2 separate regions of the Homo sapiens genome follow, and region 1 is linked to region 2. The links come from fine-mapping of genetic effects on gene expression. Tissue or cell type: unexposed skin. Region 2 holds a variant in brackets; the other region holds the start of a gene. All regions are shown on one strand. Distances are from middle to middle.

Evidence for each region. PIP is the estimated chance that this variant, and not a neighbour inherited with it, causes the effect.
Region 1: CFAP91 starts here. The variant in region 2 is fine-mapped to the expression of CFAP91 in unexposed skin (GTEx, PIP 0.96).

What each region holds. Positions count from the first base shown.
Region 1 is chr3:119,698,334-119,706,441 of GRCh38, reverse strand. CFAP91 (cilia and flagella associated protein 91) reads right to left here and starts at 3,420. Exons shown (of 18, transcript NM_033364.4): 1 at 3,220-3,420. The coding sequence starts at 3,343. It overlaps LOC105374064 (a long non-coding RNA gene), which reads left to right and starts at 3,399. Exons shown (of 3, transcript XR_924391.4): 1 at 3,399-3,946; 2 at 5,021-5,250; 3 at 6,025-6,574. RefSeq lists enhancers at 3,102-3,161, 3,212-3,261, 3,255-3,934, 4,601-5,800, 5,520-5,919 and a silencer at 3,372-3,541.
Region 2 is chr3:119,769,599-119,777,706 of GRCh38, reverse strand. No RefSeq gene overlaps it. Among named protein-coding and RNA genes, the nearest start is that of NR1I2, 8.4 kb to the left of the region's middle. The variant C/T (reference allele first, on the strand shown) is at 3,562.

The sequences.
Region 1 (8,108 bases), 71 kb after region 2:
TATACGCACTATGCCAATTTGCAAGTGAAAGAAGCAATACATTTATACCATCTCCCATATTTGGTGCACTAGAAAGATGCAAACCACATGATATCTCAGAATTGGTGAACACGGTTAAAAAAAAAATCAGCTATCTTCAGAATTCACCCCTTAAGTTTGTAAGTTTGCTGATGATGGAACTGTTATTTTTACAAAGTTCAACAAAATATTGCCCTGCTATTATAAGTATCTGTTTATCAGGTATATCTTTAAAGTGATGAAGAATATTCATGATTGACTATACTGTACCACCCTTTAAAATCAACTGATTTGCCATTAAATTAACAAGCAGCCTTTGGATACACTTGATTTCCCAAGTAGACTTGTCTCTGGGGAGGCAAATACCCTGACCAGCTAGTCTAGATAACATGGTAACACATATTTCTCCATAGAAATTAATAATTTGGGAATTGTGATTTAGAAACAAGTCTCTTTTGAATTTGGATAATGTGTGTCAATTCCTAAAACCTAATAATTCATTAGTAACCCAACAAATACGATTTACTGAATGCAGACATTGGATATTCCCACCAAGGCTGAAAAGCTGCAAGAGGCTCAGGCTCTTTTTGCTCCTTCATTCAACACATGTTTATTGACTGGCTACTCTATCTAGGTGCTTAGAATACATCAACAAAACGACAAAAATCTTTGACTTCATGAGAGAGAGACAACAAACAACAAACATAATAAACTAGCAAATTACACATTAGAATTTGAGGGTTGTTATTTTTAAAAAAGAAGAAATCGGGTAAGGAAGATTGGGTTGCAATTTTAACTAGGGTGGTCGGGGCAGGCCCTTGAGAAGGTGGCATGTAAGGAGACTTGAAGGTGAGGGAGTTAGCTAGTTAGATATCTGAAGAACATTCTAGGATGGGAGCATGCCTGATACATCTGAAGAACAGCAAAGTCCCTAGGATGGGAACATGCCTGATACGTCTGAAGAATAGCAAAGAAACCAGGACAAATGAGGCAGAATGAAGGAGGGGAAAGAGAGTAGATAAGAGGCCAGAGAAGTAACTAGGGAACTAATCACATAGGGCTTCATAAGGAAGGGTAAAAGAACCTGGAAAGGTGTTCATCTTTGCACCACCACAGTTCTGTCAAGGTGGAAACCTGGCCCAAGGCCAGTCAATTCATTGGCCAGCCAACAACCAATCTTAAATTTCTAACTTAAATTTTCAGCTACAATACACAAAGACGCTATACAATTGGTGGTGAGCTTTAGGGCTAATTAGTCAAGAAGCACGCCACCCTAGTCCCTATCATAGTAAGAGAAATCCATACACAAGAGGCTTTCTGTCAGATGGAAGGAAGCAAGCATAGAGATGTGTTGCTTAATGATGGGGATACGTTCTTAGAAACGGGTTATGAGGTGAGCTTATCGTTGTGTAAATATCAGAGGGTACTTAACATAAACCTAGCTGGTATAGCCTACTCCACACCTAGGCTATATAGTATAGCCTATTGCTCCTAGGCTACAAACCCATACAGCATGTTATTGTACTGAATACTGTAGACAGTTGTAACACAATGGTATTTGTATATCTAAACACAGAAAAAGTGATGCATTGGGCTACAATGTTATGACAGCTACAATGTCACGAAGTAATTGGAGTTTTTCAACTTCATTATAATCTTATGGGACCATCCTTATACATGTAGTCCACTGTTGACCGAAATATCATTACTTGGGGCTTGATTATACATAGAAAGAAGGCTAGAGTTGCCAGATAAAATACAGGATGCCCAGTTAAATTTAAATTCAGATACACAATGAATAATTTTTTAGTATAAATGTGTTCCAAAATATTGCACAGGACAAAAATTTATACTAAAATATTATTCATTATCTGAAATTCAAGCTTAACGGTGCCTCTTGTATTTTTATTTGCTAAATGTGGCAACCCTAACAAGGTGAAAGGTCATAAGGTCAAAGAAAGAAAGCAGGAGAGCACAGCATCTTAGTTCTGATTTTCCCCATCCAGGTTCTCATCCGCCCTGGCTATACTTCGCTTCCTGTCCATGACTAGCGGCGAGATTGTTTTATAACAATCCAAACTTTTATTTGATCTACTCTGAGTGAATTTCTGTTCTTAGCAAGGGACATGGAAACATTTAGCAATTCCTCTGCAAAAGAGACACTTCGGCATCAAAGAAACAACCAGCTTAATAAATACTTTGGGGAGATGTTTGTCCTCCTTCTCAAATTACCCGTGAAAAAAAAACATGGTGATGTGTTTACAGGAGCTAACTTGATTTATTTCACAAAACCAAGAGTAAATACAGAAAAACACTGGCCAGAATATGTCAGCAATCATTACACAGCCTCTATCTAGGAATGTGTACCCTAGATTCCCACACAAAGGAGACTGGGATTCCCAGAGGCAACACCACATTGCTGAAAGCAATGCAAGGTTCAGGTGAAAAACCTGGGATTGCAGAGGGCAAAATTGGAAAAAATCATGCTTATAGCTGGTTACAGTTCTTGCCACGGCAAATTCAATAAACATTTATTTATTGAAGCGCCTAGTATATGTATCAGCACTAGAATAGGTGCTCAGAAGGCTACAAAAATGTGTAGAACAGGAACTTAAGGAACTCAAGGAGCGTGGAGAGAGAGAAAACATAAAATGGACAACCAAGCCGTTAAAATAAACTGGGGTTTTATTGGCCCAAGAGGAGCCAGCGGACCCAGTCTATAAGCAATGCTTTGACGCAGAAGTTAAAAAAAACAAACAACAACAACAACAAAAAACCTAAAAACAAGCATGGGATAAACTGGCACTTCTTTTCGCCCAACTTGGATTTGCCCAGAGAGTTGGAGAGAAAAGATCATTTTTGTAGGGCATTTTATGCAGGAACGTTGAGTGAATCTCCGAGTGTACAAATCGTTGCACACTTTCTGGGTACCAAAACGCCCGGAACAGGTTTCAGGAAAATCGCCCCCCGAAGCGGAGCGCACCCGCGCCTTTCGATGTACCCGAACCCCCGACCCCAACCTGAGTGCGGCCACCTGGAGGGCTCGGAGCTGCCCCCACCCGACCAAGGACAACCGTGGGCAAGAGGTCAGTCCAGAGGGTCGTGTTTCGTTCGCCATGCCCCTGGCCAGGTCCCACCATCTGGGAGCCCACCTGGCCTAGGAGGCGACGGACGCGGAGGAAGGTCTGCGGCGGTCCTTACCGTACAGAAAATCATACGCTCGATTGGAGGAGATGTGGCTCCCAGCCCGCGACCTCTCCCGGTACCGAGTTTGAGACACCTGCGGCTGGGCCTGGGGCTCCTCGATGGTTACTGCGTGGCTCATGGTGCCGCCTCTTTCCTCCCGCCAGCAAGGGACCAGCGGGTCAGGCCTGGCTACTGCGTGCACGTCGCTATGGTAACGGCCGCCGGCGCGCAGGGATAGGGGGCGGGGCAAGGAGGAGGGAGGAGGCCGCGGGGCGGGGCCGAAGAGGAGTGGAGAGAAGTGAAAGCAGGAGTGGCCAGGCCAGGGTCAGGAGGAGAGTGGAGGGGAAGATGAGAAGAGAGGGGAGGGGCAGGATGGGGGAGGAAAAGGCTGGCTTCCCTCTATACTCCAGAGCCAGCGGGGAGGCTGGGAGAAAGCTACTCTTAAGTCATTGATTTGCCAGTTACACCTCGTAGCCTCTCGGAAATCCCTGGGAGATCTCAGAACCTTCTAGAATAATTGGGTGCCTCCCCGCCCCTCCCCCCAGCCCTTTTCCAGGGGGCTTGTCCCGAGAGCTGCGGAATCCAGTCAGGTTCCTAAATGTTGCTCCTTAGCACGCTGTGAACTTTGCCCCACACTCATTAGCATCAGTGTTTAGGATGGGTTAGGACATCAGTAACTGTTGATCTGAGACTGCTGACCCTTTCTGAGTCCTGGGCATTAAATAACAGAAGATGATGTGGGGTAGGCACTGGCTCTGCTTTTGAAAACTATTTATAATGGAAAATTTTAAACATAAGCAAAAGTGATTCTACTTTTAATAACAAACCCTCAAGTAACCCATCCCTCAGAATCAACATTTAGCAACATTTTGCCAATCAAGTTTCAGTTTCCTTCCCCTCTTTTTTAAAGAAATCCTAGACATAATATTATTTTACCCTTAAATTAGTCTGCATCTCAAACTGACATAGATTTTAAAAATTTAACTACCGTTATCATATCTAACAAAATTAACAATAATTCCTTAGTACTATAAATAATTCCAATTTTCCTGTTTGAGTCCAAATTATCTTTTATAGTTGGTTTGTTCCAGTCAAGATCCAAAAAAAGTCCTCATGTTGCATTTTGGTATGTCTCTTAAGTCTTTTATCCTAGAGCAGTGAATTTCTAATCCTTTCAATAATTCTCTATTATTACCAGAGGTTCTTCTATAAAAGGAATCTTTTCATACCAACTCATTGGTTATCCTGAGATAACCAGGATAATCTCATAGAGGAAAGACTGGGTAAATGCTGGATTTGTTCTTTTTAATTATGAAATTTCAGAGACATGAGTTGGTGCCCTACCAAACTCCAGAGTTAACCACAAAGTTTTTGTTTGTTTGATATCATTATGAATGCATGCATTTTTTACAGATCTGATGTTTTAATCCGTTATGATCATTATTATTTATTACACTCAGATTATTAAAGCTAATGGCATGCCTTAGAGTTGGCTTCTTTGTCCTTTAATGTTGAGACGAGAAGTCTTCTTCCGATCAAAGGTTTTTCTCGATCGAAGGGTTCATGGTCTCACAGGCTTCAAGGAATGAAGCCGTGGACCACAGTGGCAAGTGTTACAGCTTCACTAGAGAAATGCGTGGACCCAAAGACTGTGCGGTGGCAAGATTTATTAAAGCCAAAGCAAAAGTAAAGGGAAAGCGAAAGTAAAGCTTCCACGTGGTGGAAGGGAACCTGGAAGGGTTGCCATTTCTGGTTTGGGTATCTTATGTTTATATCCCCTTATGACTCCTCCCCTTTTCCTTTTTCTGTCCCATAGGATTAGGTTATTTTCTATCCACTTGTGGGTTTGTAGCCGGACGAGCCACAGACAAGAACCGCTCAGACACCGAGTTATGGAAGGAAAGGGCTTTATTCAGCTGGGAGCATTGGCGGACTCACATCTTCGAAAACCGAGCTCCCGGAGTGAGCAATTCCTGTCCCTTTTAAGGGCATACAACTCTAAGAGGGTCTGCGTGAGTGGGTCGTGATCGATTGAGCAAGTAGTGGGTATGTGACTGGGAGCTGCATGCACTGGTAATCGGAACAGAACAGAATAGGACAGGGATTTTCACAATGCTTTTCCATACAATGTCTGGAATCTATAGATAACATATCGGTTAGGTCAGGGGTCAATCTGTAACTACCAGGCCCAGAGCACAGTGCTGGGCTGTCTGCCTGTGGATTTCATTTCTGCCTTTTTGTTTTAAATTCTTCTTTCTTTGGAGGCAGAAATTGGGCATAACACAATATGAGGGGTGGTCTCCTCTCTTAGGTTGGTGGGCCTGATTGGTTAAAAACATCAGGCTGCAGCTAGAGCTTAAACTCTCTATATGATTGGCTGAAGTTTCAATCCCTTAATTTGCAGCTGGGACTCACTTTGGCTTAGGGGAAAGTCCCCTTTGATTGGTTGAAGTTTCAATCCCTTAGCTTGCAGCTATGACTCATTTTGGCTTAGGGGAAAGTCCCCTTAGGGAAGTCCCTATTGAACCAGGAAGTCCAGCCAACTTAGCCACTTAGTCCCTCAATGTGATCCACAGACACTTCCTGAATACGCTTCCTGGCCTACTACTCTTTCTGCATATACTCCTGGTTTTAACTTATTGTCTCTACTCCTAAACTTCTTGGGGTTTTTGAAAACCAGCCATGTCCTAGGTCTGTCTGTGTACTTTCTTGTAAAATCCAGTTTTAGCAAAGAACCGTGCTATGTCAGTTTGGTAAGAATCCCCCATCCTAGATATCTGACTGGGGTCCTCATCCTTCGCTTTCGCTTTTCACCCCCAGGTGAAGTCTGATTACCCTGGCTGTCTTCAGCAAGAATCCTTTGAGATGAGTTTAACCAGAATTCTCTTTACCTCTGATATTTCCTCTTAGTAATTTTTCATCCACTGACCCTCAGCCTGCTCTTTGCTATAAATTTCTACTTGCTTATGCTATATTCGGAGTTGAACCCAATCCCTCCCCCAACTACAAGACCCTGTTGCAGTAATTCCTATATCTATTGCAATGGTCTTGAACGCACTCTGCCTGTCCATGCCTTAATAAGATCATTGAATAATTTTTTCTTTAACACCCCTCAACTAATTTAGGTACATTTCAACACTCACCTCTAACTTTGCCACTTCTATGCAGTTTCCTCATATCTTTCAAATACAGTGAGATATCATCCTTCCAATGCTGTAGTAGCACCAATAGCATTGACCACCTTGTATTAGTAATCAGTAATTGTTCACAACTCTGCTTCCCACAACTTTGAGTTCACTGAGGGCACAGCCCTTCACCTGGTCATTTTTGTATCTCTGAGGTATCTGGTACATGAAATCTTAATGAAATGATTACTAAATCCATCCCTTTGTTAAATAAATTTACTGAATGTCTACTATATAATAGGTGTTAAAGATTTTGAGATAATTTGTACAGCTCACTGGATGATAGAGAAAGCTGACACAGAAGCAAAGTACAATATAATAATGGTATAGTACTTTTCTGTCTGGGGTACAGCTACGTTCTCAGAGCCGCCCACTTTTCGTTTCTTCTTCTCAATGTTCCTCACTCCCACCTCCTTATCTTCTCACAGCTAGCTCCTCAACATATGACATCACCTAAAATGTTCTCTCTATACCGGAAAGGGGTCTGCATCCAGACCCCAAGAGAATGTTCTTGGATCTCACGCAAGACAGAATTCAGGGCGAGTCCATAAAGTGAAAACAAGTTTATTAAGAATGTAAAGGAATAAAACAATGGCTATTCCACAGACAGAGCACCCCCGAGGGCTCTGATTATTTCTTGATGATATGCTAAACAAGGTGTGGATTATCCATGCCTTCCCTTTTAGACCATACAGGGTAACTTCCTGACATGCCATGGCATTTGTAAACTGTCATGCTACTGTGGGAGTGTAACAGTGAGCAAAACCAGAGGTCACTCTCATGGCCATCTTGGTTTTGGTGGGTTTTAGCCAGCTTCTTTGCTGCAATCTGTTTTATCAGCAAGGTCTTTATGACCTGTATCTTGTGCTGACCTCCTGTCTCATACTGTGACTTAGAATGCCTAACCATCTGGAAATGTAGCCCAGTAGGTCTCAGCCTTATTTTACCTAGCCCCTACTCAAAATGGAGTTGCCCAGGTTTAAACGCCTCTGGCAATCTCATCAGAAAGACTTTTCCTCAGCCAGCCATGGTGACTTACGCCTGTAATCCCAGCACTTTGGGAGGCTGAGGCAGGCAGATCACCTGAGGCCAGGAGTTCAAGACCAGCCTGACCAACATGGTGAAACCCCGTCTCTACTAAAAATACAAAAAAATTAGCCAGGCGTGGTGGTAGGCGCCTGTAATCCCAGCTACTCAGGAGGCTGAGGCAGGAGAATTGCTTGAACCTGGGAGGCGGAGGTTGCAGTGAGCTGAGATGGCACCACTGCACTCTAGCCTGGGCAACAAGAGCAAGACTCTGTCTCAAAAAAAAAAGAAAGAAAAGAAGAAGAAGAAAGACTTCTTTTCCTCATTCTATCAGATAAACTATCTAAGGTAGTCAACAGCCAGCAGCCTCCATAAACACATCCGAAGACACTATTACCTTGATTTTTTTTATAGCACTGAAATGTTACTGATTTGCTTATTTATTATATCTCCTCCCACTAGAATGTAAGCTCTGTGAGACCAGAGACCTCAAATGTCCTGTTCACCCTGAATTCATCCATATCTCTTAGGCCAGTAAAACCACCTTTGCAAAAGATTATAACTGAGAAAATTATGACAGTGAGAAAAATCTGACATGGCTGAGTCCATCTTGACTCTAGCCTCACAGGTTGGCTGTCTTTGCTCATTCTGGGACATGAGCCAAGCTAACTTTGGGAGAAATTTAGAGTATAC
Region 2 (8,108 bases):
AGCATTAATTATAATGTTTTGCAACCATCACCACTATTCATATCCAGAACCCCTTCATCATCCCAAATAGAAACTCCATCCATTAAGCAACTCCCCATTGTTATCTTCCTTGAGTCCCTGGTAACCTCTAATCTACTTTCTATCTCCATGAATTTGCATATTCTAGGTATTTTATGTAATTGGAATCATACAATATTTGTCCTTATGTGTCTGGCTTATTTCAGTGAGCATAATGTTCATGCATGTTGTAACATGGGTCAGAACATCATTCCTATTTATGGCTGAATAATAATCCATTGTATGCATATAGCATCTTTAATTTATCCATTTATCTTTAGGCTACTATGAATTATGCTGCCATAAACATTGGTATATAAATATTTGTTTGAGCTTCTGCTTCATTTCTTTTGGATATATACCTAGTAGTGGAACTGCTAGGTGTTTGAGTCCACTCAAAATTCATATGTTGAAATCCTAACCCCCAAGGTGATGGTTTTGGAGGTGGGGCATTTGGGAGGAGATTAGGTCATGAAGGTGGAGCCCTCATGATTGATGCCCGTTCTTCCACCTGAAGTTATAGTGAGAAGACTGTCATCTATGATCCAGGAAGGGATCATAGATCCCTTCACCAGTCACTGAATCTGCTGGCACCTTGACCTTGGACTTCTCGGTCTCTATAACTATGATAAATAAATTTTTGTTGTTTATAAACTATCCAGTTTATGGTATTTTTGTTGTAGTATCCTGCATGGACTAAGACATTGGGTCATGTGGTAGTTCCACATTTAACTTTTTGAGGAACTACCAAGCTTTACCACAGCAGTGGCATCGTTTTACACTCCCACCACCAATGTACAAGGGTCCCAATTTCTTCATGTCCTCTCCAACATCCTCTCCTTGTTATTTTCCATTAAAAAAAATTATATCCATCCTAGTAGGTGTGAAGTGGCATCAGGCCTCCTGTTTTCAGGCCTCCATGGTTTCTGATGCGAAATCAACTGTTAATCTTATTAAGGCTCCCTTGTACAGGATGAGTTGCCTCTCTCTCACTGTTCTCAAGATTCTCTTTGTCTTCTGACAATCTGCCTATACTGTATCTTGGTGTATCTCTTCGTGTTTATTTTGCTTGGGCTTTGTTGAGCTTCCTGGATATGTAGACTCATGTCTTTTATCACATTTGGGACACTTTTGGCCATTCACATATAATTTCTGTCTCTCTCTCTCCCTTGTCCTTCTGAGACTCTCATAATGCATATGTTGGTCCACTTGATGGTGTTCCACAGGTATCTTAGTCTTTGTTCACTTTTCTTCACTCTTTCATTCTGCTTCTCAGAATGGATAATTTCAATTGTCCTATCTTCAAGTTTGTTAAATCATTCTTCTGCCTGATCAAACCTGCTGTTGAACTCCTCTAGTGAAATTTCTCATTTCAGTTATCATACTTCTCACCTTCATAATTTCTATTTGATTCCTCATTATAATTTCTATCTCTGTATTGATATTCTCGTTTTGTTCATATATTATTTTCCTGGTTTCCTTTCTTCGTTTCCATGATTTCTTTTAGTTTTTTGAATACATTTAAGACAGTTGTTTTTAAAGTCTTTGCCTAATAATTTCAATGTTTGAGCTTTCTCATGGACAGTTTTGTCAGTTTATTTTTTTTCCTTTGAATGCATTATCCTTTCCTGTTTCTTTGTATGCCTTGTGATTTTTAAAAATTGAACATTCAAATATTACAGTGTTTTAACTCTGGAAGTCAGATTCTTCCAGTTCCTTACGGTTTGCTTGTCTTGATTGCTGAAGGCTTAGCTTGTGTTCAGCCAGTGTTTTTGATAGAGCTGTCCTTGATTGCCAGGAGCTAAGTAAAACAAAACAAGTAAAACCCCCTCCTCTTCTAGTCTTTGTGGATTGGCTCTGTCTTGGGGCACTATTAACACTTTGGTAGGCCATTTAAAATTCCCCATGAGGCCGGGCATGGTGGCTCACACCTGTAATCCCAGCATTTTGGGAGGCCAAGGGAGGCGGATCACCTGAGGTCAGGAGTTTGAGACCAGCCTGGCCAGCATGGCAAAATCCTGTCTCTACTAAAAATACAAAAATTAGCCAGGTGTGGTGGCAGGCACCTGTAATCCCAGCTACTCAGGAAGCTGAGGCAGGAGAATCATTTGAACCCAAGAGGCAGAGGTTGTAGTGAGCTGAGATCACATCACTGTACTCTAGCCTGGGTGACAGAGCGAGACTCTGTCTCAAAAAAAAAAAAAAAAAAAATATATATATATATATATATACACACACACATATATATATACACATATATATATATATATTCCCATGAGCCTTTACTTTCTACTTGTACTGAGCCCAGAGATCAGCCAGTGGTTAGGGTCTTCTCAGGTCTTTTCTGAACATGCGTCCTGTCCTGGCATGCATGTTGCTTTCTAAACTCCCGAATACACACTGGCAGTTTTGAATTGCCCTAATTTCCCAAAGGAACTCTCTTCCTGGCTTTTGCTCCCAGACCTCAGACATTCTATTGTATGTCTGAACCTTAATCTTTTGCCCCCAGGTGGCTGCAGGTTTTGTATTCACCTTACAATGTTTCTGAGCAATGATTGTCACTTCTCCCTCTTCACGGGTTCTCAGTTAGGCAAAACGAGATGCATACCTCATATAAGTTCTTCAGTTAGCTCCCGAATAGGTTAGAACAGACAAACAAACTCCAGTAATTTGCAATTGAAGCCTGCTCTGCTCCCTCCAGAACCAGGGTTCAGGGTCCCATACTGGGAACACGGGATGCTGTCTTTAAGACTGCTGCTGAGACAAAGAGGGGATGTGGCAAGGACAAGTAAAAATGCCACAAAGTTTTCCTATCATTTTCCCCCCAATTTAAAAAACTGGCAAATGTCCTATCATTTTTAAGTTGCTTTTTCTTGGTTCAGCACTTTCTTAATTGCTGTAAACTTCTGACTCTTTTCCAGAGTTCTAGCAAAGTTGGCTCTGACAGTTGCTTCTTGTTTTTCAGTATTTCTGTAGAGGGACGGGAGTTTGGAGCTGCCTATTCTACAATTTTGCTGATGTCACCAATGCTAGTGGACGACTTGTTTCTTCTTTATGTTTCAGTTCCCTTCTTTGTACAAGGGGATGATATAGGTAGACAGCTTGTGTTGAGGCTTTCCTTTTGAGAACAGTGATCAATACAAGAACAACCTAATCCAAAAGTTCAAGACCTTTTTGTGTTAGGCTTTGTATCCACATTGGTCATAACAATGAATGACCTTTCCCCAGAATGAGCTGCAGGCATCTGTAAGTCATTTTTAAATGACCAGTGTCTTTGGAGTCCTGTAGATAAGTCATAAAGACATTCTGTTTTTTTTTTTTCTAGATATTTGTTAAGTTTTTAACTTAATTCTGAAACCCATCTCAAATTAATTTTTGTGTTTGGTGTGTTGTAGATGTCAAGATCTATTTTTCCTTCTTTCATTTATTCTGTTATTCCAGCACTATTTGTTGTAAAGGCTCTCTTTTCCCCATTATTTAGCTCTGCAACTTTAGTAAAAAAAA[C/T]GTATGTTAACCATACATGTATGAGATGATGTCTGGATTCCCTATTCTGCAATATATGTCTATTTATCTATCCTTATGCCAATATCACACTGTCTTGATCACTGAGGCTTTATAGCAAGTCTTGAAGTAGGTAGCATGAGCCTTTCAACTTTGCCCTTTATCAAGATTATTTTGGCCCTTCCTTCCTTCCTTCTTTCTTTTCTTTCTTTCCTTCTTTCCTTTTCTTTCCCTTCTTTCTTTCTTTCTCTCTCTCCCTCTCTCTTTCTTTCCTTCTTTCTGACATTTTTTCACTCTGTTACTCAGTCTGGAGTGCAGTGGTGTGATCATGACTCACTGCAGCCTCAAACTCCTGGGCTCAAGTGATCCTCCTGCCTCAGCCTCCTGAGTAGCTAGGTGTGCATTACGAGGCCCAGATAATTTCAAAAAAAATGTTTTTGTAGAGATGGGGTGTCACTTTGTCGCCCAGATTGGTATCAAACTCCTGGCCTCAAGTGATCCTCCTGCCTCAGCCCCCACACCACCCCTACAAAGTGCTAGGATTACAGGTGTGAGCCACTGTGCCCAGCCATTTTGGCTATTCCTGTATTCTTTGCTTTACCGTATAAATTTTAGAATCAACTTTGAAAAGTTATTAAAATGCCTGTTAGTATATTGATTGTGATTGCATTGAATTGCCAGATCGATTTGAGGAGAACTGACTACAAAACAACATTGAGTGTTCCAACATGTGAACATGGCATAACTCTCAATTTAGATCATTTATTTTTCTCAGCAGTGTTTTGTAGTTTTTAGTGCAGAGGCCTTCCATGTCTTTTGTTAAGTTTATTCTTAAGTGTTTTACGTTTTTTGGATACTAAGTCAATTTAAAAAAAAACACCGCTGTTCTAATTGTTTGCTGCTAGTATATAGAAAATATATTTGTATGTATATATATTTATATTGATGAGATATAACTGTGACTTTATTAAATAGTTCTAGTAGTTATTCCTTAGTATTACTGAGGATGTTCAATGTAAATAATTATGTTTTCTGCAAAGAAAGACTGTTTTCTTCTTTTCTGATCTTTATGCTTTTTTTCTTTCCTTATTGCATTAGTTGGAACGATTAATACAGTATTAAATAGCATTGTGGTGGGGGTAGATATCCTTGTGGGGGACATTCAATATTTCACCATTAGCTATGATGCTAGCTGTCACCTTTATAGATGCTTTTGTCAAGTTGAGGAAGTTCCTTTTTATCCTAGTTTTTTGAGAATTTCTAAACGTGAATGAGTGTAGAATTGTGTTAATTTTTCAGTTAAGATCATATGCTTTTTATCTTTTTTCTATTAACATGTTGAATTACATTGATATTTCTAATGCTGTACTAACCCTGCATCTTTGGAATAAATGTGCTTTGTCCAGAATAATACTCTGTCTCTCTCTTTTTTGGAATTCTGATTTGTTTTGGTCATATTTCATTAACGACTTTTGCATTCATAATCATTGAAAGCAGCTATGCTCACCACTATACCACCAATGCTGCAATTGTAATCATGATATAGACCTGTAACTTTATTTTCTTATCTCTGTCAGATGATATGATTATACTGGTCTCTTAAAATGTGATGCAAACTGCTTCCTCTATATTTTCTGAAAGAGTTTGTATAAGATTGGCATTATCTCTTCCTTAAATGTTTGATGGAATTCACCACTGAAACCATCTGGGCCTGGATGTTTCTTTATGGGAATGTTTTTGATAACAAATTCAATTTACTTAATAGATACAAGGTTATATAGATTTTCTATTTATCATTGTATATTTTTTGGTAAATTCTGCTTCAAGGACTTTTTCCATTTCATCTAAGCTATCATATTTATTGTCATAAAGTTTTCAAAAATTCCTTTATTATCCTTTTAATGCCTGTAAGATCTATAGTGACATTCCCTCTTCCACTATAGTGATACCCCTCTTGTTCGTGATGTTGATAATTTGTGATTTCTCCTTTTTGACCAGTCTCTTCAAAGAATAAAATTTTGTTCTTGTCAATTTTCTCTATCATTTTAAGCTTTCTGTTTCATTAATTTCTGCTCTTGTGTATCTTAAAACATCTCTCCTACTACTTACTTTGGTTTTACTTTGCCTTTCTTCTGCATCTTCCTTAAGTGGGAACTTAGATAACTGGTTTTAAGCCTCTTTTCTAACATGAGTGCATATAGCTACCATTTCTCTGTAAGCACTGCTTTTGCTACATCCTACAAATTTTGAAGTTGTATTTTCTCAATCGTTCACATGTTATTTCTTCTTTGATCCAAAGGTTATTTAGAGATACACTGTTTAACTTCCAAATGTTTGGGGATTTTCTAAAAATATGTATCTGTTCCTGATTTCTAAGTTAGTTGTTTCTGTGGTCAGATAACATATTTTATAAGATTTCCATTGTTTGAAACATATAAAGATGTTTTGTGGCTCAAAATATGGCTTATCTTGATAAATGTTCCATGTACACTTGAAAAGAATATGTATTCTGCTGTGGTTGGGTATAGTGTTCTGATTAGTGTTAAGCAAAGGTATGTAGTTTTGTTAAAATCTTCTAAACTTTACTGATTTCTTGTCTAATTGTTCTATGCTATTGAAAAGAAGGTGTTAAGTCTTCAACTTTGGAGATTTGTTTACTTCTTTTTTTGTTAGTTTTGCTTTGTGAATTTTGAAGCTCAGTTATTAGGGGCATAAATGGATAAGACTATTTGGTTTTCATTTATTATTTTTATGAGATATCCTACTTTATCTTTGGTAATACTGCCTGCTTTGAAATTTTTTTTTTGCCAGCTGTAGTAATAGAACCAGTCTAGTTTTCTTATGCTAAATATTTTCCTGTTGTATCATTTTCCACCTATTTACTTTCATTATCACTGTTTTTATATTTAAAAGTGTCTCTTGTAAATCATATGCTTGGTTTTGCTTTTCTTCAAAACAATTTTAAGAAAAAAAAAACAAAACAAAAAACCATTTTGACACCTGTGCCTTTTATTTGGAGTGTTTAATACACTAATATTTAATGCATGTTAAAGTTGAGTTGAGGTGTATCATTTTGTGATTTATTTTCTATTTGTCCCAACTTGATTTTAGTCTTATGTTTCTCCTTTTTTTTCCTTTTTCTGGGTTAGTTTTTTCGTATTCTCAGTCAGCCAGGGGTATGTGGAAAACTTGTCTCAACCCTTCCAGGATCTCCCCATTAGCACTCTGGTTGGTTTGCTGCTCACCCCAACTGGGACTGCATCCTTGGGCTAACAAAGCTGTGGCCTTTCCCTATTCATTTCTGAGTTTGCTACTTTTAGTATATGCAAAGTCACAAAATTTCATGCCACTTCTCGACCCTAAATATTGAAATTTAAAACTTTATAAGTATTTCTCCTCTGGCAGAAGAGCCACTGGGTTTTTGGCCAACTCCAAACTGGAAAACTACGATTCTTGCTGATTGAGCTTGATGGGAGGTGGGGGAAAGAATTAGCCTTCTGCTGTTTCTCCTTGAATCTCTAGGAGCTTTTCAACTTGCTGCCCATCTCTAGTAGATTTCTAGTTCCCTGGATGCTTTTGTCAATTTTGTCCAGTTGTATGGTTTTTTTTTTTAGTGGAGGAGTATTGCTGACCTCTTCATTCTGACATAATTGAAAGCTGATTTTATAGATATGTTTTAATAAAATATCTTTAATTTTTATTAAAAATAAAAGAAACAGTGAAAAGAACATTTTTGCTTCTTCTCTGAAACTTCTGTTGGAGGTTTCTTAAGCTGTCGAATGTCTTTTGTACAAGGATAAATGGGATAAATTCCTTTTAGGATGTCATACAGAAGGCCTCTCCCTTCCTTTATGACTTACTTGGTTCCTTGATAATAACATTCACAAGTTGAATCACAAAAAGTTAAACGTTTATAAGGAATGAATGTTATAAATTAGAATTATGTCCTTGAAACTCATTTCATACCGTAATATGCCAAGACATAATAAATGATCTCTAAAACCACACACATGTTTACTTTTACAAACATTAAGTATGTAGAATTTCATTCAATAAATACCTACTAAGGGATTGATAGGTGCCAGAGACTGGACTGGCTAAGCACTGCAAATGAAAACAAATGAACTCACTAGGTACAGCTGCTGCCCTGCCCTCACACGCCAGTGAGAGAGACGATTACGCAGGAAATTACTATCAAGTGTGTTATTGAGGAAGTACCAAGTGTTATGACTATGTCCAGTATCAATGTTTTCTCACACATTTTTTTTCTTTGAAATTCTTTATGCTTTACAAAGAAAATATAATTAGAACCTGGACTGAAGACATATCTTCTGTAGTAAGTCTGAATGGTAAATGCTTGGAGAGGGACAATTTCCTTGGGAAACACGTCATCTATTCTCAATTTGGAATGTACATTAAATCACTTGGGAAACTTTAAAAAAAAAATCCGTTTGCTTGGGCTCCCCTTCTAAAGATTCTATCTTAATTGGCCCGAGGTGAAACCCAAGAAGCACTTTTTTTTTAAAGTACTCAGGTGGTTTTCGCATGCA